Linked DNA regions of Homo sapiens: region 2 is linked to region 1. The links come from fine-mapping of genetic effects on gene expression. A gene starts in region 1. The other region holds a variant in brackets. All regions are shown on one strand. Distances are from middle to middle.

Evidence for each region. PIP is the estimated chance that this variant, and not a neighbour inherited with it, causes the effect.
Region 2: its variant is the best candidate, but not a certain one, in a credible set for the expression of DOCK3 in coronary artery (GTEx, PIP 0.70).

What each region holds. Positions count from the first base shown.
Region 1 is chr3:50,671,006-50,681,628 of GRCh38, forward strand. It overlaps DOCK3 (dedicator of cytokinesis 3), which reads left to right and starts at 3,922. Exons shown (of 53, transcript NM_004947.5): 1 at 3,922-4,295. The coding sequence starts at 4,259. It overlaps LINC02019 (long intergenic non-protein coding RNA 2019), which reads left to right. Exons shown (of 2, transcript NR_183733.1): 1 at 1-171; 2 at 366-1,046. It overlaps MIR4787 (microRNA 4787), which reads left to right and starts at 4,075; the gene lies at 4,075-4,158. RefSeq lists a silencer at 3,886-4,175.
Region 2 is chr3:50,571,156-50,581,438 of GRCh38, forward strand. It overlaps HEMK1 (HemK methyltransferase 1, mitochondrial release factors N(5)-glutamine), which reads left to right. Exons shown (of 11, transcript NM_016173.5): 2 at 1-177; 3 at 555-646; 4 at 960-1,053; 5 at 5,897-6,031; 6 at 6,354-6,418; 7 at 6,671-6,720; 8 at 7,666-7,771; 9 at 8,689-8,784; 10 at 8,961-9,074; 11 at 9,226-10,283. The coding sequence ends at 9,262. It also overlaps a transcript of C3orf18 not described here. Among named protein-coding and RNA genes, the nearest start is that of HEMK1, 6.8 kb to the left of the region's middle. The variant G/A (reference allele first, on the strand shown) is at 6,953.

The DNA.
Region 1 (10,623 bases):
AAAGCTGCCTCCTGAAAGGAGGCTTCCTAAAAGGTGTTGCTTTGGGGTAAATAAGAGGTGCTGGTGAAGTGAGACTAGCTTGCGCATCTCTCTGCCATGAAGGAAACTAGCTCCGCAGACGTTTTACTAACCACAGCAGACCCCCTCCTTGAGGAACCCAGAAGGGCAGAGGTAAGTTGGGTAACGTGTTCTTAAGTCTTCCATTTACCTGACCCTGGGGTTCATATGGGGATAAGCTCCAGCTGCTGACACCTTCTGATCAAGAGAAGGCAGAATGTCACCACTATCACCTGCACTTTGTTTGGATTTGCCTCTATACCCACTGCATTTCTCTGATGTTTTTTTCTACCATTCTGTTTGGACAGAGCATCAGATGAAATCAACTGCTGAGAGAGGGAAGTGAGTGCTGTGTTGGCACCGCTGCCAGAAACTCTTGAGAATGAGCATCGTGTGCCACTTATCCACTGCTTGCCGACTTCAGTAGCAAGAGCCTCCAGAATGCTCATGGATAAACATCATCTTTGTGGCCACACATTGTTTTATGAGCTGAGTCATCAGACTGGCTGGCTCCTTAAATGCTGCTGTGTGATTCTCTAGGCAGCAGAAAACAAGGAGAGAAGATATGAAGTGTATCTCATCGAGCTTTGTAGAGGGCCAGTATCATTCACCAAAGGTGATGGGGGATTTACCATTATGGAGTTTGCTTGTGATAAAAAATTATTGATCAACTTAAACTCTAAGAGAAAAAGATGATGCTGTCTGCATTTCTTGTAAATTATTTATAAAATTTGTTTGGGTATCGGCTATTTTTAACAGCCACCAGTCTTAACGAATTTCCTGCAGAAAACTTGATTCCTTCCTTGCTCATCGAGTTGCAATTTATCATCTAAGGTAATGAGTTAAACCCAAAAGTAACAGTGACATGATAAGTGAAACTGTTTGCATACTTTGTTTTTTAAATTGCTCTATCATGTTTATCTTTTTTATAGCTACTCAATAAGACATTGCAATGAATTTTTAATTAAAACCAATATGTCTATAACAAAGAAATTTAATTAATTAGAGTTTCTGAGTTTGCCGATTTGTGACTTGCTGAGGTAAACATCTCAGTTCTCTCTTCCAACCTATTTCATTATGGTCTCAGAAAACGTACAGGGAGATTATTCACCCAAGAGTGTATGTTAAATTCATGTTAGGTGGTAGGCACTATGTTAGTCTCTGTGTAAGGTAAAAATAATTGAAGAACAATCCTTGTCACTGAAGAAAAAAACAGATGTTTGCCAATGTGAGAAGCAGACCCATTTGATCTCTTGGAGAAGGGTGGAATGAGTAAGTGCTACAGAAAAGGTCATAATGGGTGCAAAAAATCCAGCTGAACTGAGGGCAGTTGGGGAAGCCTTCTTCAGGAAAGTGGCCCTGAGACAGCTCTTGAAGCATGATGCAGATGTGTGGGTTTCAAGAGTAGAGGACACAAGCTGAGGGACACTCTATGCAAAAACCCAGCCAGAACAAGGCAATGGTCTGAAGTTGGGATGGCCCTGGGGAATTCTGGGAAAGTAGTTTCCAGGAGGTGACAGGGTCAGAACGCAGACCTTCAGGTGGTGAGAATCAAATGAATTACATTGAAATAAAAGGATTTGGAATGGATGATTCTCCTCTGTAGTCAGATGGAGAGAGGAGGAAGAGAGAGGGAATGGGGGGATGAGGGTACCAACAGGGCAGGTCTTCCTGGGACCGCAGGAGTCTGTGGAGCAGGTCAGGGTGAAAATGGGAGACAGGGCAATGATAGTTGGGGATCCTGAGAAGTAGCAGGCAGTGAGCCTGGTGGTGGCGAGAACACAAAGAAGAGCAGTTGGAGAGGAGGGGAGGTTACTGTGCTGAGGGTCTCGATTTTCAGAGGCAAGCTGGAAGGCAGCTCATATGCTGAGAGAGTGTGTGTGTGGTGTGTTGAGTGGACTGGGAGCCTGAGGAAGGAAAGGATCAGAGCAGATGCTAGGGGGATAAGAGAGCAGGTGCATGGTCCTGCTGAAGGCCAATGTGTGCTATGCCCTTTTGCTTCAACTCACAAAAACAATCTAAATTTATACAAACAGCAAGAGTGTAGGAGTCCAGGCTTACTAAGTCCCTTCCTTCTCACTTTGGTCCCTTCTTTTCCCTTCCCTGGTTGGGTTTAATGCCCTTCCACCCTGGAGCTGAGGTGTGCAATCATGGAGAATTTTCTTCATCTGGGAAAGCCATAATCTAAGATGGATTCAGACTGGGAACAAGAGTATAAACTTTGGAAAAACTGGCCCTTAGGCTCTGTGACTGTCATCACATACAGCAGACAAGGGAGTGAACTTAGAGGATGAAATAAGAGCTTTAAGGTTGTTCCCTGAAGGCCTGCGTAGCTCAGCCCCACTTGTTGAATAGCTACCTGGAGAGTTTTGTAAGAATGTGGCTTCATTCCATAGAATACTTCCATGGTGGCCACCGGGGAGGGGTCTATCTTCTTGGAACAGTTAGCTCTTTCGTTATGTTCTTGGACACCCCTGCTACCCCTAAAAAGAAGTGTACCTGGCTATTGAGAAATTCTATCATTCACAGAACAGACATTTTTCTGGGCGGGAGTGGGCAGCTATGATTAGTGAGAGGAGGAGCCTAAAGGTCCGAAGGTGGGAAGGGGTGGCCATAACCCAGGGGAGCACAGTCAGGCCTGGGAGGAGTTACCAATCATGACACTTTGAACGAAGAATCAACAAGATCTGTTGATTGCAAGATATTCTTCTATTAGTCTGGCTTCCCATGCAACAACTATACAACAGGTGCTGGGTTGGTGGTGAGGGTTTAGAAAGTTGATTTTAGCCTGGAGCTTGCCTTCTGGGAGCTGACAGTCTTATAAGGGAAATAAGACAAACCGAACATAGCTCCAATTCCAGACAAAGAAGGAAAGGAGACTATGGGTCAGGGCAGGCTTCCTGGAGGTGAGGGGCTGAGCTGGGCTTTGAAGAGTGGTGGTGTCTGAGAGTGCTAGTGAAGGATGACACCAGGGTTTTGACTTAGTAGTGCTAGTGACAGAGATGGGCAAATCTGCTGGGATTAGAGCATGTGGTCCAAATGTAGGTGGAAAGGAGAAGTCCTGCAGTTCCTGTTCTTTGGTAAGTGGTTGACTTGGGGGTCACAAGGTGACATTTACAGGCATCAGAATGAATGGATTCTTAGGGAGGAGAGAGAGGAGGAAAGTTTCCGGTAGGAGCCAGTTCTTAGGGCTCCAAGGGAGGCAGACACCCAGGAGCAGCAGATGCCGTGTCCTGGGTAGGAACACGAAGGGCCCAATGAAGCTCTTCCTTACTAGCAAGGCGGCTGTTGATTGTTCTGGCCCCAAACATTCACCACTCAGGCCATCTCAGAGAAGCAAGAACCCAGGAGGTGTCAGCGGCCTCAGCCCACAGGGGATCCAGGAGAGAGGGGCACGAGTGCACCCCACCTGGTTCCCTCGTGGCGACTCCATCCTGCGGGCCCTGGGAATGCACAGGGTGGCTCCGGGGACCTTTCCGACAGCACTGTGGGTGACACTGGGATGGGTCTGAAAATGGTGTCGTGTCCTCCTTTTCTGGATCTCCCCTCTCCGACCAGGAGGCCTGTGGCCATCTCGGGGCGCAGGCAGGAGGCACTGGAAGCGGAAGCGAGTGGGGAGTCCGGGTAGAGGGAGTCGCCCACCTGACCGGCTTCGCCCCCTCCGGGGTTTGCTGCAGCTGAGGGCCCCGGACCAGCGATTCTAGAAGCCGGTCCGGGGCCGGGCAGTCCAATAGCTTCTCGCGGATTTCCCTCCGCTGGCGCGCAGCAGCGGCGCGTGGATTCGCGCGCGGGCTCGGGACGGCGCGAGCCCGGGCAGCGCGAGCCCCTGCGCGGCAGGGAGTGGCGCATGCGCGGGCGTCCTGCGAGCCCGCTGGGGCGAGCCGAGCCGCGGCGGCGCCGGGAGCCGGGCGGCGGAGCTGTGAAGAAGCAAGCGGCGGCACGGGAGCAGCGGCGACGGACAGGTGGCGAGCCTTCGCCCGCGCCGCCAGGGGCTGCTGGGCCACCCGCGGAGCCTCGCGGTCCAGACGTGGCGGGGGTGGCGGCGGCATCCCGGACGGCCTGTGAGGGATGCGCCGCCCACTGCCCCGCGCCGCCTGACCGTCCCCGCCTCGACTCGCGGTGCGCCACAGCCGGGCCCGCGGCCGTCCCCGCCGCGTTGTCGCCCGGTCGCCGCGCCCGCGGGGCCGCGCCCGGCACGGCCATGTGGACCCCCACGGAGGAGGAGAAATACGGCGTAGGTAGGTGAGGCTCAGGCCTGGCCGTGGCGGGGGTTCTGGGGGACGCGCCCAGCTCCCGGCCCCGCCTGGATTCGCATCCTCGTGCCCCCGCCACTGCCCGCAGGCTGCGCGGCCTCGGCGCGGGGCGAGCGCGGGGTGGGGGCAGGTGCGGGTGCGGGTGCGGGTGCGGGGGTGGGCGCGGGTCTCTGTGCAGAGAGGGCGGCAGGGGGCGCTGGCGGTGCGGCCTTGGCAGGTGCGGCCCGCGGGAGGGGTGGGCAAGGCCCGGGCAGTTGCCCGAGGTTTCTGGTGTGGGCCACGGGGCAATTTTACCCGATAAACCAAATTCTGGGAATATGTTTTCTCCCCTCCAAAAGCTCGATTTTAATGAGTTTCCGCACCTGAATTGATGAGCCCGATGGCTGTTTATTTTTGATCTGGAACCTTACAAGAAAACGGATGAAAAACGTTGACATCATTTTCCCAGTTCAAAAATTTGGACATTTGACTGCAAATGTTTGATCTGTTTTAATTTGTTTTGCCTTTAGTATTAGAAATAATACCTTACGATGGGAAATGTTTTTGGACATGTATCAATGTTTATACGGTTTTTTTTTTAAACCCTGTTTTCAGATGAGACCTTATTCCTCTTAGAAACCTTTTTTTAATGTTGTAAGTGTTAAACTCCAGAAGCTAAATAATTCTTACAATATTCAACTTCTTTAAAAAGAATATTCAGTAATTTAAAGTATTGAATGTTTTACAATGTTAGTGTTTTGTGGCAATTACATGATAGAGTTAAGCCTCATTGCATCACCTATCATCTTGTTCAGTTAGAAACAGATTTAAAATGTTGAGTGTACAGGTTTTGTTTTTCCTAAGCTCGTAATGGAAAATTTTAGATAGGAAACCTGTCTAAACATAGATTTTTGTTTCCCATCTTTACCGCAATTTAATCAAGATTTAGTTCACAATTCACTACAAAATAACTTGAAACTGCAGTGGTAACGAATGTTTTGGAATGCTATCAGGCAGGTTATCGTGTGAAAATTGAATTTATTTAAATTCGAGGACCAGCAGAGAGGTCTTCTATTCTGGTAGAAGATCTTGTTTTAAAAGGTAACTTTCTGAAACAATTAGGTATGTTAGGATGGAGGTGATAAAGGGAGCTCTGGTCCTAGAGTCTCTATTGAGAAGGAATTGAGAAATGATGCGAAGAGCTGGGATTCACCTCTAGGGACATTTTACCCCTTCTCTTAGAGTATTCCCTGAATACTGAGTTGATTCTGTGAAGTGAGGAGTTGGTGGTTTATCTTCTCCATAACTCGCTCCCAGAACTGCTGAACTAGAATAACAAATAATTGATGTGAGTGGTCAACTCTCCAGTGGCACCCCATGATTGATTTTTTTGGAGGGGGGAGGAGCCCTATTTTGGCGGGGGTGGGGGCGTGGGGGGAGGAGCCCTTGAATAGTGGACAAAGTGGAATTCAGAGTCCTAGCTTCTCTTTACTGGTGGTGTGGGCAAGTAATTTAACATCATTTAACGTCATTTTATTAATGTATAAATTGGGGATAATGTTTACCTATCTTACAGGATTGTGAAAGTGAAATGAGAACGTGCTGAATGCTTAATAGTTTCTTCTTTTCCCTTAGTATTTAGACTAATAACACTAAGTGTGTTCTGAGACAGAGCCAGTGCAAGGTAATCAAGATAGGTACATGTGAATCTCAAAGCACTAGGATTTGGTGTGTGATTTTCCCAGCAAGATGCAACGAAATTCTTGCATTCCTAGGATTGTGTTTTTAGCTTTAGAAAAATTGTTATTCCCTTTGGAGGGCCACAGCATTGGGCTCAGGGCAGAGCTTAATGCTTGCTAAATGAGAGAGACAGTTACACTGAAGACATTTTCATAGCAGCTGTGGTTTAGCATAACTTAGATGCCTTTTCTACCAAACCAAGCAACTCTCTATTTATCTCACAGTCTTCCACTGTCCCTTCCTTAGTTATGATCTAAAAGTTTTTGTGTAAATTGTTTAAAACTCAGGACACATTTTTTTTCATAAGGATGTTAGGGCTACACTTCTAGAACTTTTCATAAAATCCACTTTATAAAGTAGCTTATACATTATACTTATGAGAAAAATAGTCAATTAAAACGGCATTTTTGCTGCATCATTTGATTGCTATGAGGGCTAGCTTGAAAATATAACCATTATCATTTTCCTGTGAGAAAATGTTTGAGTTTCAGCTTTGATTTTTATGACTAACTTGGAGCACAGATTTGTGTCTTTGTTTGTCAACCTATAATCACATAGCAAGGAGGGAAACCCCTTACACTTACTTCCTACCAATTTGGAGAAATTTGTGGAGGAGGGCCTCGAGGGCCTCCTTTTGCCCTGATGTTAGTGAGGGAAGGAGTCCCCTGTTGCAGCAGTACAAAGGGTTTTTTCCACTGCAGCTGTTCATTTGTATTTGACATTGATAAGGCTTTGAGATCCTGTAGTAATACTTATTAAATTTTTTATAATATAGGAATTCTGTACAGGTTATAACATGACTGAATTGTTTGGTTTATTCATTTAGGATGAGGTGATGACTGAGCCCCCCTTTCCATTGTAATATTCTGTGAGTGATTTTAGGCAGTGGGGAGGACATTATCCTTTCTGAGGGTCAGTGATAGGCCTGTCAGTGTGCCTGGGACTCTCACTTAGGTAACCCCATGTCGATTCCCAGAGTAGTCTTAATGTTATCATTATTACACAGATAAAGAAACTGGATCCCAAAGGTTGTTAATTTTTTTTTTTTTGTCCTTCAACGATTGTATATTTTTCTTAATTTTCTTCTTGGCAGTGGGCAGTATTTTGTGAAATACTTGACTGTCTTGCTTTCTTTTTGTGGTACTGTAAGGTACTGTTCTTTACTGTACCCGTTCGCCCGTGTTTTGACTTCTTATGTCCCTTTCCCTCTTAGAGAATCTCTGCTTTCCTTTCTGTTGCCATGAATGCTTGGAAAGTCCTGCATCCTTCCATTCTTTATTCTACCTTTCCAAGAAGCTTCCTGCTCTAAAGTGTATTAGGTGAGAAAAATCCAGCTATTTTTGTGAAACACCTGTCTTTCCCTATACTGACTGTACCCAGAGTACCAAATATAGAATACAAAAACCAAGAAAATGCTTTTCTCACCCTCTAACAGGAGCAACAGCAGGAGCAGCAAGCACCAACAGTTTTTAAAACAAAAATGTTTGTAATTACACTCCTTGAATAGAAAAGTGGTAAAGGTTTGAGTACATAGGTATTAGTTTGACGTCTTAGAAGTGGAAGCTGCTTCAGAAGGTCATCTTGTTTATTCTGCTGCTGTCATTAGGCAATTTTTTTTTTTTGAGAGGTGGGGTCCTGCTCTTGTCATCCAGGCTGGAGTGCAGCGGCATGATCATAGCTTACTGCAGCCTTGAACTCCTGGGCTCAAGCGATCCCCCTGCAGCAGTCTCCCAAGTAGCTGGGACTACAGGTGTTTACTACCTTGCCTGCCTAATTTTTTTTTTTCTTTTTTTGAGACGGAGTCTTGCTCTGTCGTCCAGGCTGGAGTGCAGTGGCGTGATCTCGGCTCACTGCAAGCTCTGCCTCCCAGGTTCATGCCATTCTCCTGCCTCAGCCTCCCGAGTAGCTGGGACTACAGGTGCCCGCCACCATGCCCGGCTAATTTTGTTTTTGTATTTTTAGTAGAGATGAGGTTTCACCATGTTAGCCAGGAGGGCCTCAATCTCCTGACCTTGTGATCCGCTCGCCTCGGCCTCCCGAAGTGCTGGGATTACAGGCATGAACCACTGCGCCCAGCCTTGCCTGGCTAATTTTTAAATTTTAATTAAAAAAAATTTTTTTTAGTGACATGGTCTTGCTATGTTGCCCAGGCTTGTCTCAAACTGCTGGCTTCAAGCTATCCTCCCACCTCAGCCTCCCAAGTCACTGGGATTATACCTGTGAGCCACTGTGCCCAGCTAAGGCAAATTTTTGAGTAATTTAGGGCATTTATTGCTTATTTTTTATTAATCCCTCTTAGTAGAACATGAAAAATTTTTCTCATTACCAATCTGAAGACCTTACATTTTAGTTTTGTAATGTTATATTTATTTTTTCCTATTTAAAAAGTAATGCGTATTTTATGCATTATTTTTACCTAACTTCCTTTTGGTTAGGTTTCTCCAGATAGGGAAGAAAAGCACTTAAAAACAAACAAACAAACAAACAAACAAATCCTGAGTCCTTAAAAGAAACTTGTAAAGATCCTGTGGTGCAGGAAAAGAATCTGAAGGTGGGGAGGAAATAGATCCTTGAAACCAGATCTGGAAGAATTAGTGTTCACAAAATTTGAGTAAATCTGTTGGTAAATGGACTAGAACTCACCAAAATAGTCTGAAGACAGTGTGCTCTTTAGTTATTTATTCAGTGAGGGAAGCCCAACCTTTGCAACCTCTGGAAGGGCCCCAATACCCCTTTAGAGGTAAAGACATCATCCACTAGGGGTAGGAAAGATTTCATAGACCTATGACTTTATTTTGTTCTGAAAAGTGAGGATGTGCTTGATGTCTTGTTTAGTGTTTATGGGGAACTTCCTTATTCATGATTCTACTTGAGCTTTACACTATATCACCACCTCTCCCCTCTTTTTTAAACAGATGAGAAAGAAGCTTTAGCTGAGAGAAATTAAGTAACTGATCTAAGATACTTTAGATAGTAAGTGCTGAGTTGAGATTTGAACCTAGGACTTTGAGATTCTAAGCCACAGATTGTATTATTACACCGTGTCCTCTGAAAGGAATTGTCAGTAGTATATGACTGTGGCTTGAAAGATAAGACATACTCTGCAGTTTTCAATTTAAACTGGATAGTTATATTTAAGGAATTTTATTTCTGTATTGGACTATTTTTTTCTTTTTCTTTCTTTTTTTTTTTTTTTAGACAGAGTCTTGCCGTGATGCCCAGGTTGGAGTGCAATGGGGTGATCTCGGCTCACTGCAACCTTCGCTTCCTGGGTTCAAGCGATTCTTCTGTCTCAGCCTTCTGAGTAGCTGGGATTACAGGTGTGCGCCGCCACACCTGGCTAATTCTTTTCTATTTTTAGTAGAGACGGGGTTTCACCATATTGGCCAGGCCGGTCTCGAGCTCCTGACCTCAAGTGATCTGCCCGTCTTGACCTCTCAAAGTGCTGGGATTACAGGCATGAGCCACCGTGCCCTGCTTTTTTTTTTTTTTTTTTTTTTTTAAGACGAGGTCTTGCTATGTCACCCAGGCTTGTGTGCTATGGCATGATCGTAGCTCATGGTAACCTTGAACTCCTGGGCTCAAGCCATCCTCTCCAGTAGCTAGGACAACAGGTCCATGCCACCATGCCCAGCGAATTTTTAATTTTTTTTTTTTATAGAGACTGGGTCTTGCTATTTTACTCAGGCTGGTCTTGAGCTCCTGGCCTCAAGAGACCCTCCCTCCTGGGGAGTGGCGGGTTTACAGGTATGAGCCACTGTGCCCAGCCTGTTGCCTACTTTTTAATGGGATTATTTGGTTTTGCTGCTGAGTTCCTTGTATATTCTGTATATTAGTCCCTTATCAGATAAATAGTTTGCAAATATTTTCTCCCATTCTGTAGATTGTCTCTTTACTCTTTTTCCTTTGCTGTGCAGAAGCTTTTAGTTTAATGTAGCCCCATTTGTCTATTTTTGTTTTTGTGGCCTGTGCTTTTGAGGTCTTAGTCATAAAATCTTTGCCTAGACCAATGTCCTGAAGCATTTTCCCTATGTTTTCTTTTAGTAGGTTTATAGTTTTGGGTCTTATGTTTAAGTTTTTAATCATCTTAAGTCTATTCAGTAGACTTCAGATTTCTAGTTCGTTTTATCATGCAGTATTAGAATATGATTTAGAAACATTAAGCTAAATTGTAAACATGGCACCTATTTCTGTGTAGTATTAGATGCATTCTGAAGCAGGGCAGTCTCAAAAGAATGGTCATTGAGGTTGAAAGTACTTTAACCTTCATAGCATATTTTTACATTGGTGCTAAATTTTAATTTTTAATAGTTTGTATTTTGAATTTTTTAAAATTTTTGTGTCTTTATTCTTTAAGAATGATCTGAAATTATTCCCAACATGTAAGCATTATTGGGTATGCTATATTAGGATTTTAATTCCAATGTTATGCTTTTATTGTAATGAACAAGCCAAACCTGTTTATGATTATGCATTTAATTGTTTTGCATACCCCCTTTTGACAGCTTTTGCAGGGAGAAGCAAGCATTTTTTTCACATAAAGGCTCTTAAAACCTTAAATTTTTTTTATACATCACCAAATTATTTTAGCTAA
Region 2 (10,283 bases), 100 kb before region 1:
AGGGGAAGTACCCGGGGCTGGGCCTTCAGCTCATGGCAACCCCAACCACCTCTGGCTGGGTTATCCAGTGCCATAGAACTGGTCAGCCACTGGACTGGGGTCTTTGAGAAGAGGGGTATCCCTGAGGCCCGGGAATCCAGTGAGTACATCGTGGCTCATGTCCTTGGAGCCAAAACAGTTAAGTTTAGTGTTGTCAAGAGGACAGGAAGAGGGAGGAGGGAGGACTTGGGGAAGGGATATCCAGGTTTTCTGTTCACTAAGAGTGCTTAGCTGAGACTGATGGGATTTTTCTGAAGGAACGTCTTAGCGCCTGGCACACACTGTAACAGTTTGTTGGATGAATGAATATATCTCTGCCTAAGTGTTCTGGGATAGACACCTGGAAGCCTGGTGTTAGCTGTGTAACCTTAGGCAGGATGCTGCCCCCTCTGGGCCCAGATGATGAGAGGGTTGGGCCTCCAGACCAGTGCTGGGCAGGCATTATCCACATAAGACACCTGGGTTGGGGGCCTTGGGCCCAGTGAGCCAGCCACTTATATTCTCTGTGGGGACAGTTTCAGAGCCTGAGGCCGGCACTTTGGACCCAGCCCTTGACCTCTCAGCAACTACAGTGTATCCGGGAGCTGAGTAGCCGTCGATTGCAGAGGTGAGCACCCATGGATCAGACCTGAAGGATGTGTTCAGGGAGCAGCAGTCCAGCCTCCCCTATCCCCACCAAGTTCAGGGAGGAGGAGAATGTCCAAGGACTAGGGAGGTGTTGGGGTGCAGGAGTGGCAAGAGTGGGGCCGGGGTACTGAATAGGAAGAAGGGAGGGAGGGAGGGTTTTGCCTCAGGAGTCCCAAGGCCCTGGAGACATGGTCTTGCCTGATACCTTTGGCCACAAGTGGTATCTCAACCCAGGCATGGTCCTGTTGGTCCTAGCTCTGTCCCTGATGACCACCCAGCTGCCCCCTCTGCAGGATGCCGGTGCAGTACATCCTTGGAGAGTGGGACTTCCAGGGGCTCAGCCTAAGGATGGTGCCCCCAGTGTTTATTCCTCGGCCAGAAACAGAGGTAGGTGTGCCACCAGGGCAAGGCAGGATCAGGATGATGGTGGAGTTCAGGGCACCAGTCTTACCCCAGGCTTCCTCCAGGGGGCACTGGGGCCCCATGACTTCAGGGACAGTGCCTTTCTAGACATGTATTTCCTCTCTGACTGTGTTGGCAGAGCCCAGAGGACAGAGGATTCCTGTTGGTCCCCTTGACTGTTATGTTCCAAGCTATCAACCCAGCCTCTAGGTCTGGCAATGGCCCAGAGTGCCTCAAATAGTGCTGCCCAAGTACTTAGCCTGTTCTGCCATTTCTCTGGGAGCCATCCCATGGCTCACCCAACCCACAGGGAACAAATGTCTTCCAGCAGCTTCTCAGGAGGCATGGAGGAAGTGGAGAGGGCTCCAGCCGGACACCTGGAGACCTGGTATCAGCTGTGCAACCTTGGGCAGGTCACTGCCCTCCTGCCATCTCTGGGCCCAGATGATGAGAGGGTTAGCCCTCCAGCCCAGAGAATCTGGTGGCCCTCTTAGGTCTACTGACTGGTCTGGTAATCACCTGTGTTGTCCCTCAAATTACTAGGACTAGGGATGTGTGGCGCAAGTGTGTTATCCCTTGGTAAGGCACCCTGGTCCTGGAAGAGACGCTTTATATGGCCCTTCTTGGACTCCCCTCTGACCTTGTAGATGACAGAGCTGGGAGCCAGAGGGCGCAGACCAGGGAGTAGAGCTGGGTGAGAGCTGGTGGGCAAGCCAGAGGGCGCCAGGTTCTGAGAAGGAGTGTTTCTAGAAAGACCTAGGCACACAAACATTTCTGGGAAAGGTTAGTTCCCATTCCCCTGCTGTGGCCAGGGGGCCCCAAACCCTTCTTTCACTTTCTCAGCTTCTGTCCCCTAGCCAAGAAACTCTCTGACCCCTCTCCTCTCCATATCATGTGGTTGGGAGGCCAGGTCCTTGCTTCACTGCCCAGTGTCAGGGCAGGGACAGTAGGGAATCTGAGGCCTTGCTGAAGTCACAGGGCTGTCAAGGAAGGGAGCATGGGGGCAGCACGTGGACTTCCTGACTCCCAGCTCAGAGCCCCATCCCTCACATGGGGCTGCCCCATCTGGGATTGGCATGACCTAGGACACAGTATGGAGACCCAGAGCAGGGTGTGGCCTGCCACCTGCAGACTTTGGGAGGCTTACCTGTGGCTCCTGAAAACACGTGATCTCTGGCGAAGAGATCATTTGCTGTCTCCGGCTTCCCAGGGTCAGGGCATGGTGACTTTTGAGTTCCTTCAGAGCTGACCTGGCACCAGCCATATGTGCCAGGGTTCTGAGTATCAAGTGTGGACTTTGGCTCCCATGTGGCCCCCTGATTCTTGGATGGGTCTGGGCCAAGAGAGCAGCTCTACTGCAAGGGGTGGGGTGAGGGGAGATGCTGCGATTGGGAGGCCAGGTGCTCATCTTGCTGTGCAGACATTTCTGAGAACTCACCAGGTTCACCCCAATGTAAAGCCACATCGGGGGATGCCTTACCAAGAACTCAAGAGGACGTGGCCTGTGGCAGGGAGTAGTGAGAATGGGTGCAGGGGATGGTTTCTGATGAAAGGGGAGTCTGAAGTGCAAACTTGCAGGAGGCATGTGCCCAGTGAGTTGCATTTTCCCTAAGGGTGAGAAGGTGGTTCAGCCCCTGGCCTGGCAGTGAATACAGTAGGAAACTCAGGGCTGGGGGTGTGAACCATTCTCACCCAGCCTGCTGTGAGGCTGTACAGGTTGTGGGAGGCTCAGTGTTTTGTCTGTGATTGGCTTGAAGGAGGCAATGCCACCTCCCTGGGTCTGCCCCACCAGGGATGCCATCCTAATAGAGGGTACTCATGGGCACTTAGGTTCTGCCCAGGCCTTGGGCCAGCCTCTTGATGGGGTATGGAGTCCATGTTGGGGCAGCAGTTCTAGGCAGAGCCAACAACTGCCTGCCCCTCACCTCTTTCCCGCATGCGTCTGTGCCCCACCCTGTTCTTGGATTCTTACCATATTCACCTGGAGGGGGTGCCCTGAGCCTGTGACCAGCATGGCTTTTAGTCTTGCCGAAAGAGCCACCAGCGTTAGGCTGAGGGAGGCTCTTCACTAGGAGGAGAAGAGAAAGTTTCTGGACTCCTTGGGCTGTTATCTACCCCTGCCCCAGGTGGCTCTACAACCAAGATGAGTTTCCGGTGCTCTGGAGTGTTATGGCAAACAAGAGGCCACTAGTGGTGGCAGGGGCTCAGTTTCTTAGCTTCTTACCCTCCCCAAGGTGGCCATCCACATACGTGGTGTGTGTCTTTGAGGTCTTTGAGTATCTCTGTGAGGTGGCTGGCCAGTGTGGCTGGCTGAGGGGTCATTCTCCAGCCAGAGTAGGTCTGTCTATGACCAGGAAACCAAGAGAGGCTTACACACCTGACAACAACTGGTCACCCTACCAACCTCTCAGCTTGTGGCCTCACCACTGAGACCACAGGCTCTCAGCCACAGCCCTATACTGCTCACTCTGTACCTGGCCCAACCTTGCAGGCTAAGCTTGCCACAAGTACCTTAGTGGTCTCCAGTAGTGCCTGGCACAGGGCTGGTGAGAGCTAGTGAATACACACTCTCTCCTGCTGGAACTGGGCCCCCTCACCCACAGGCAATCATTTGTTAGGTGCAGAAGAGGCTTGGAACATGGAGGGTTGGACCTGCTGGCCAAGTTCTGCCTGCTTTGGACTTGCCACCCTCAGGGTGGGTGAACATTGTTGCTGGGTTTGGGGGCCTGGAAGGGTGAGATGCTTTTTGGAACCCAGCACTGGGGAACTTATGTGGAAAATGGGTGTGAGTGATCTGGAGCCCTCTGCTCCATTGGGCCTGGCTGATGGCATTGGGGTGTGGGGGAGACCTGGGGGTGTGAGACTCAGAGGGTGGTGCCACAGAGAGCTTGCCCATCACTTAGAAAGTAGCCAAGAGGGCCAGGCGCTGTGGCTTACACCTGTAATCCCAGCACTTTGGGAGGCTGAGGCGGGTAGATCACCTGAGGTCGGGAGTTCGAGACCAGCCTGACCAACGTGGAGAAACCCTGTCTCTACTAAAAATACAAAATTAGCCAGGCACAATGGTGCATGCCTGTAATCCCAGCTACTTGGGAAGGCTGAGACAGGCGAATCGCTTGAACTTGGGAGGCGGAGGTTGCGGTGAGCCAAGATCGCGCCATTGTACTCCAGCCTGGGCAACAGAGCGAAACTCTGTCTCAAAAAAAAAAAGAAAAGAAAAGAAAAAAAGAAAGTAGCCAAGAGGTTTGTCTGTGGGCCAAGCCCTGCCAGTGTGGGACACACTGCGATGAGTCAGACCTCAGGTCTTCCTATTATGGCGTCTGGTGGGAGAGGCACACCCCATCCTTAGGCTAGACCTTAGGCTCAGGGTGGAGAAAGCCGTGGTAGAGCCTGGCCCAGGCTTGAGGAAGGCTTTCTGGAATAGGTAGTCCTCTTTTCAGATCAGGGAAGCACCCACTTGCTGCCCACCATCCCCAGCTCCCTGAGCCAGTCTTTCCTGAGACCTGGGGTCCCAGGAGTCCTGACCCTCTGGGGGGCTTCTCTGCCCACATCCAAAGGGATGCCTTTGAGAAGGAGCTACACTGCCCTTTCCTTGTCTCATGCCTGGCTACTCAGGTGTCCCACTCCACTGCTGGTTAGAAAAATTTTGGCCATTGGACGGCAGGAGCCTTCCACCCTTTACCCCTACCCTATGTTGGTTTACAGGCATAGTCCTTGCAGGCAGTGGCTGGGTAGGCAAGGCTTGAAACCCTCTTGTTTCCAAAGTGACAGTGTCTGAAAATGTCCTCCTGCTGCCAGGGCAGGTACAGTGCAGTCAGGCACCTCCCTCTGCACCCATGCCTGTTGACCTATGCCTGTGTATGCCACAGCCCTCAGGTCCTTAGTCAGGACCATGTCCCCCCATGGCCCATCTCCTCCAAAAGAGGGAATTCCCTGTCCCTTTGGCCTAGGAGCCTCCCTGGGGGCCTCTCAAGCCCAGCTCTGTGAGGAGGCTGGGGACACACCAGCTCCTGATTCTTGGCCACCATGAAACCACAGGCCAGGCTCAGGTGGGGCCTTGACCCCAGGCCTCAGTTTCCTCATGGGACACTTGTGAGGATTTAACAGATTAATACAGGAAAAACTCTGGGAGCAGGGTCAGGCCAGAGGGAGTGGACAGGAACTATCAGGTATGGTTCTTAGCTTTTTTCTTTTGAGATGGAGTGTTGCTCTGTCTCCCAGGCTGGAGTGCAGTGGCGCGATCCTGATCCACTGCAACCTCTACCTCCCGGGCTCAAGCAATTCTCCCTCTCACCTCAGCCTTCTGAGTAGCTGGGACTAGAGACATCCGCCACCATGCCCATGCCTGGCAAATTTTCACACCTTTAGCAGAGACGGGGTTTCACCATGTTGGCCAGGCTGGTCTCAAACTCCAAACTCAAGTGATCTGTCCACCTTAGCCTCACAAAGTGTTGGGATTACAGGCATGAGCCACCGTGCCCAGCCAGTTCTTAGCATTTCTGTAAGCACAGAATGGGAGGATGTCTGTAAAGGGCTTAGCTGGGGTTGATTGAACACTTAACATGAAACAGGTGTGGATTAGTGCATTTAATCCCCACCACATCCCCACGAGGTGGGCTATCCTCAACTGGGCTCAGATGTACAGATGGGGAAGCTGAGGCCTGGAGGGGCAGGGTGACTTGGCCATGCCCCAGCTGACATGAAGGTCAGTCTGGCTTTGGCTACCTCCCCTTCCTACGTTCACAAGGGTAACTGCTTAGGCCTCTGTACCAAGACCCCCAGGAGCCACGTTGGCACCGACTCTGATCCAGATCCCTCTGCTTCACAGGAACTGGTTGAGTGGGTGCTGGAAGAGGTGGCCCAGAGGTCCCATGCTGTGGGATCCCCAGGCAGCCCCCTCATTCTGGAGGTGGGCTGCGGATCAGGAGCCATCTCCCTCAGCCTGCTGAGCCAGCTCCCCCAGGTGAGCCCCTCCACCCACTCTGGATAGACTGTGACTGACACTCACTGTCCCTCCCATTAGTGCTTCCCCCACATCCCTCTGCTAGGAGCGCTTGAGGGGAAGCAGCTGGATGAGGGAGGACAGGGCTGCCCCTAGCCCACTGTGGTTCACAGACTCTAACGCCTACCACATCTATCTGGCTAGACTTTGGCCAAGAAGAAAAGGCTGTTGGGTATTTCCCTTCTCTTCTGGTGGGGGGTTGGAGGAGGGTCCCCCAGGCCCAGTATCTTCCAGCATCTCTCAGCATTGCCTTCCACATATCCTCTGTTTGTTCTTGGGACAGAGCCGAGTCATTGCTGTGGATAAGCGGGAAGCTGCTATCTCTCTGACCCATGAGAATGCTCAGAGGTAGGTGGGGGAGTTGCACTTTGGGGCCTAATCTTGACTCCTTTTCAGGTTTCAAACTCACCAATGTCTGATTTCTACTCCCAAGAAGGAGGAAGCAGTGGGGTAGCCTGGCATGGGTCCCATGGGGTTCTGAATGGGTAGTGGGCAGTGAGTATCTTGCCAGTCCAAGAAGGGTTGACTATAAGACCTCATTCTTGTAGTGAAGGGTAGGGGTCTGCCCCCGTGCCTACCCCTTTCTCCCTGTCTGTGTAGGCTTCGGTTGCAGGACAGGATTTGGATCATCCACCTCGACATGACCTCAGGTACCCTCCCCTGCATGTTCCTTGAGAGAGGGAGACTAGATGCAGGTGCTGCTGGGTGGATGAGGCACTCCGTGGAGATGGAGGGAGAGCTCCCCCAACAGCCACACAGCCACACACAACACACACACATACACGTGTGTGTGTGCACGTTTGTGGCAGCTCAAACGAAGCCTTGGCTGAGGACAGACAAGGTGCTTTTGCCTCCTAGGCTGACCTGACCCATAAGGGACCA[G/A]CCACAGAGAACTTCCGAATTCCTCACAACCAATGAGTTAAGGGCTTGCTTGTTGGCAACAGATAAGCAAAAGCTTAAAATAATGCCTTCAGGACCAAAATACTTGAGTGCCCCTTTCCCCCTGCCTGGCAGGGGAAGTGGTCCAGGCACTGCACAGCTCAGCTATAGCCTTTACAGTGTCTCCAGGCCTCCAACTCCAGTTCTGGCTCCATTGCCTTACCCGTGGGATCCTTGAGCCTCAGTGCCCCCTCCATGGAATGTGATATACTTGGTGTAGCACCTGGCACAGGGTGAAACCAGTAGTCAGAGCCATCAGGAATTGGCTGATGAGGCCAGGCCTACCCTCCATGTACTCTCAGTCCATGTTGGCTATAAGGCTAGTGGAGCTACAGAAGAGAAAGGCTCTTTTCTGCCTAGGCAATCAGGGAGGACGCCCTGGAAGTGGCACTTGAACAGAGTCTTGCATAATAAGGAGGATTTTTGGCAAGGACACTCTATGCCTTGAAATGAGGGGCTGCCATGTTAAAGCATGCACATTCCCCACCAGGCTGCCAGCTGGGGACCCTGGGCACTAATTTGCAGGTCTGGCTTATCAGATCCAGAGGCAGGCCCAAGGTGTGGCATGGTGAGAGGGACATGGTGGCAGGTGGAGCTATCATCCTTTACCTCCCAATGGGTTAGTCCCTACTGTGTGTCCTCTTCTTTGACGACAGAAAGGAGCTGGACACACCTGCCCTGGGGCCCCATGGACCTGATTGTCAGCAACCCTCCCTACGTCTTCCACCAGGACATGGAGCAGCTGGCCCCTGAGATCCGCAGGTGCTAAGCAGGGTGGGCCAGGGAGGCCAGGCCTGAAAAGGCCTGATGGGATTAGTCTGCCCTCGAGGACCACACCATCTGGAGGGACAGGGGAGTTGGTGCTGAAATGGGCAATGGTGTTAAGTTGACGCACTCGAGAGCCCACAGTCCTACCTAGATTCAGCTTCTACCTTCCTACTTCCTTACTTCCTACTAAAACTACTGGACAGCCACCGAACCTCTCTGGACCTGTTTCCTGCCTCTAGAAAAAGAGAGGTAGTGCTCTGCAGGGCCACGGGAGGACTCAGTGACGACTTGAAAGCATCAAACACAGTGGAGGGCTCATACAGGGTGCTCAGTAGATGGGCGCATCATTTTATAGAATACTGAGGCCCAGAGAGGGAAGGTGTCTTGTCTGTGGTCGCATGGGGGCTCAGTGGGAAAGCCGGGACTAAAAGCTGGCCCCAGGCTAGCTTTGTGCCAGGCCATCCTGCTCTTACACAGGGGCTGAGAACCAGGGGCAGCCCAGGAGTCCTGGATGGGGCAGCAGTCATGTTGGATGGGGCTGGGGTGTTGGCTCTCCCTTTCTGGGCTCTCAGGAGTGGTCAGGGCTAGCCCCAGATCTCCCAGACCAAGAAGAGGAGCAGCCTGTGGGGAGACACTCATGCCCTGACATGAGTCAGTGCATCAAGAGAGGCCATCAGCCAGTGGGATTCAGCAAGCATGCCTGGCGCTGCCTGGTAGGGTGCTGCCCATGGGAGGAAGAGAAGAGGAGCTGCCACCCATTTGGGGCCCTCCTTCTCTGGGTCCTCAGATTTGCCCTTCAGCCCAGAGTGTAAGTTCCACAGGGCCCCATTCATGGAGGCCTTGCCCATGCCCTCCATGCATTTCAGATACCCCTTTCTCAGGCTGTCACCTCCCACTGCTTTGCCTTTCAGCTATGAAGACCCCGCGGCCCTGGATGGTGGGGAGGAGGGCATGGACATCATTACCCACATTCTGGCCTTGGCACCCCGGCTCCTGAAAGACTCTGGGTATGAATGGGATGGGTCTCCTAGGTCTGTCCCCAGCAGGCTCCTCTGCTCCTAATGTGTACTGGGCAGGCCCTGGCAGAGGTCAGCACAGGACCCTCACCTCGCCAGCCCAAGCAGCCCAGAAGGGCAGGCGCCAGACCTGTCCTGCTGAGCCCACCCATTTCTCCCCCATGTAGTAGTATCTTCTTAGAAGTGGACCCAAGGCACCCGGAGCTTGTCAGCAGCTGGCTTCAGAGCCGGCCTGACCTGTACCTTAATCTTGTGGCTGTGCGCAGGGACTTCTGTGGGAGGTAAGATCCTAGCCCCCTTTAGCCCTGTAGCATGCTGGTCTTTCCACTGGGGCCATCCTCAGCCCTGGCTGTCAGGAGAGTGTGCTGTTCCCACTTCCTGTTCATTCCCTGAGGCCCAGGTGGTAACCAGCCCCTGTCCCTGTCTCCTCAGGCCCCGGTTCCTGCATATCCGGAGGTCTGGGCCATAGCATGGCTGCCCTGTGGATGCCTTGTCAGTGCCGCCAGCCTGACCAGAGGGGAGGTGGATGGCACTTTCCAGAGCCCAGGTTCTTATGGCATTTCCCAGGGTTCTGTGATTTCCCCATGCTCTGCATTTCTAGGATATTTCTAGGACACCTGGATTGGCTCCATCACATCAGAGTGGCTGAGGGCAGTTGCTCTGTGTTGGTGAAATTGCTGTGGGGGTATCGGGGGATATGGCCAGTAAAGTATTGAGAGACTAACAAATGGTGACCTAATGTTTTGTCCATGACTTGCAGGTCCCCTGACCCCCTTACTCCCAGGTAGCACTGGGGCAAGGGTTTCCTTCTGCCCCAGCAGGGCTGGCCGTCAGTCCCCTGCTTGGTAGTGGTGTGGGGGTGCAGTGTGGAGGAAGGCACGTGAGTCCTCACTCCTGGCCTTGGATACCATGGGTCCTGGCATAGAGCAGCTCACTCCCAGGGATTGATTAGTCCTCCACTGCCCTGGGTGCATGCGTACACAATTCCCTGGCCAAGCCTGGCTCGAGCACAGGAAGCTCATCTGCGTTTTGGCTCAAGGATGACTGCCTGCTTTCTGGAGGGGAGGGTCTGGAGGTCTTTGCTGCACAGTTCCTGGGTCGCACATCCACGTTCATTTAACTGAAGGCTTGAGCCAGTGAGGGGTGTTTCCTTTTTATCCCCATAGCTTTTAGCTAAAACATCCCTCCCGAGTTGACCCCCTGGGGTTTCAAATAACCCATGTGTCCCTGGTTGGGGCTGGGGAGAGTGAGAAGCTGAGATACTGGGCACAGGGTTGTGGCCTCCACCCCAGCTCTGGTCTGTGCAGACTCATGGCCACCAGGAGGCCTGCAGATCCAGCCTTCCTGTCAACAGCGACAGGAAATCTCTAGGTTGGTGAGTGCTGGTGATGTGAGCCTACATCAGGGTGGGTCCTAAGAAACATGGCAAACCAGGCTGTCTCATTCCACTAGACTGCCCCCTGCCACCCTGGCACTTCCCAGGGCCTGGC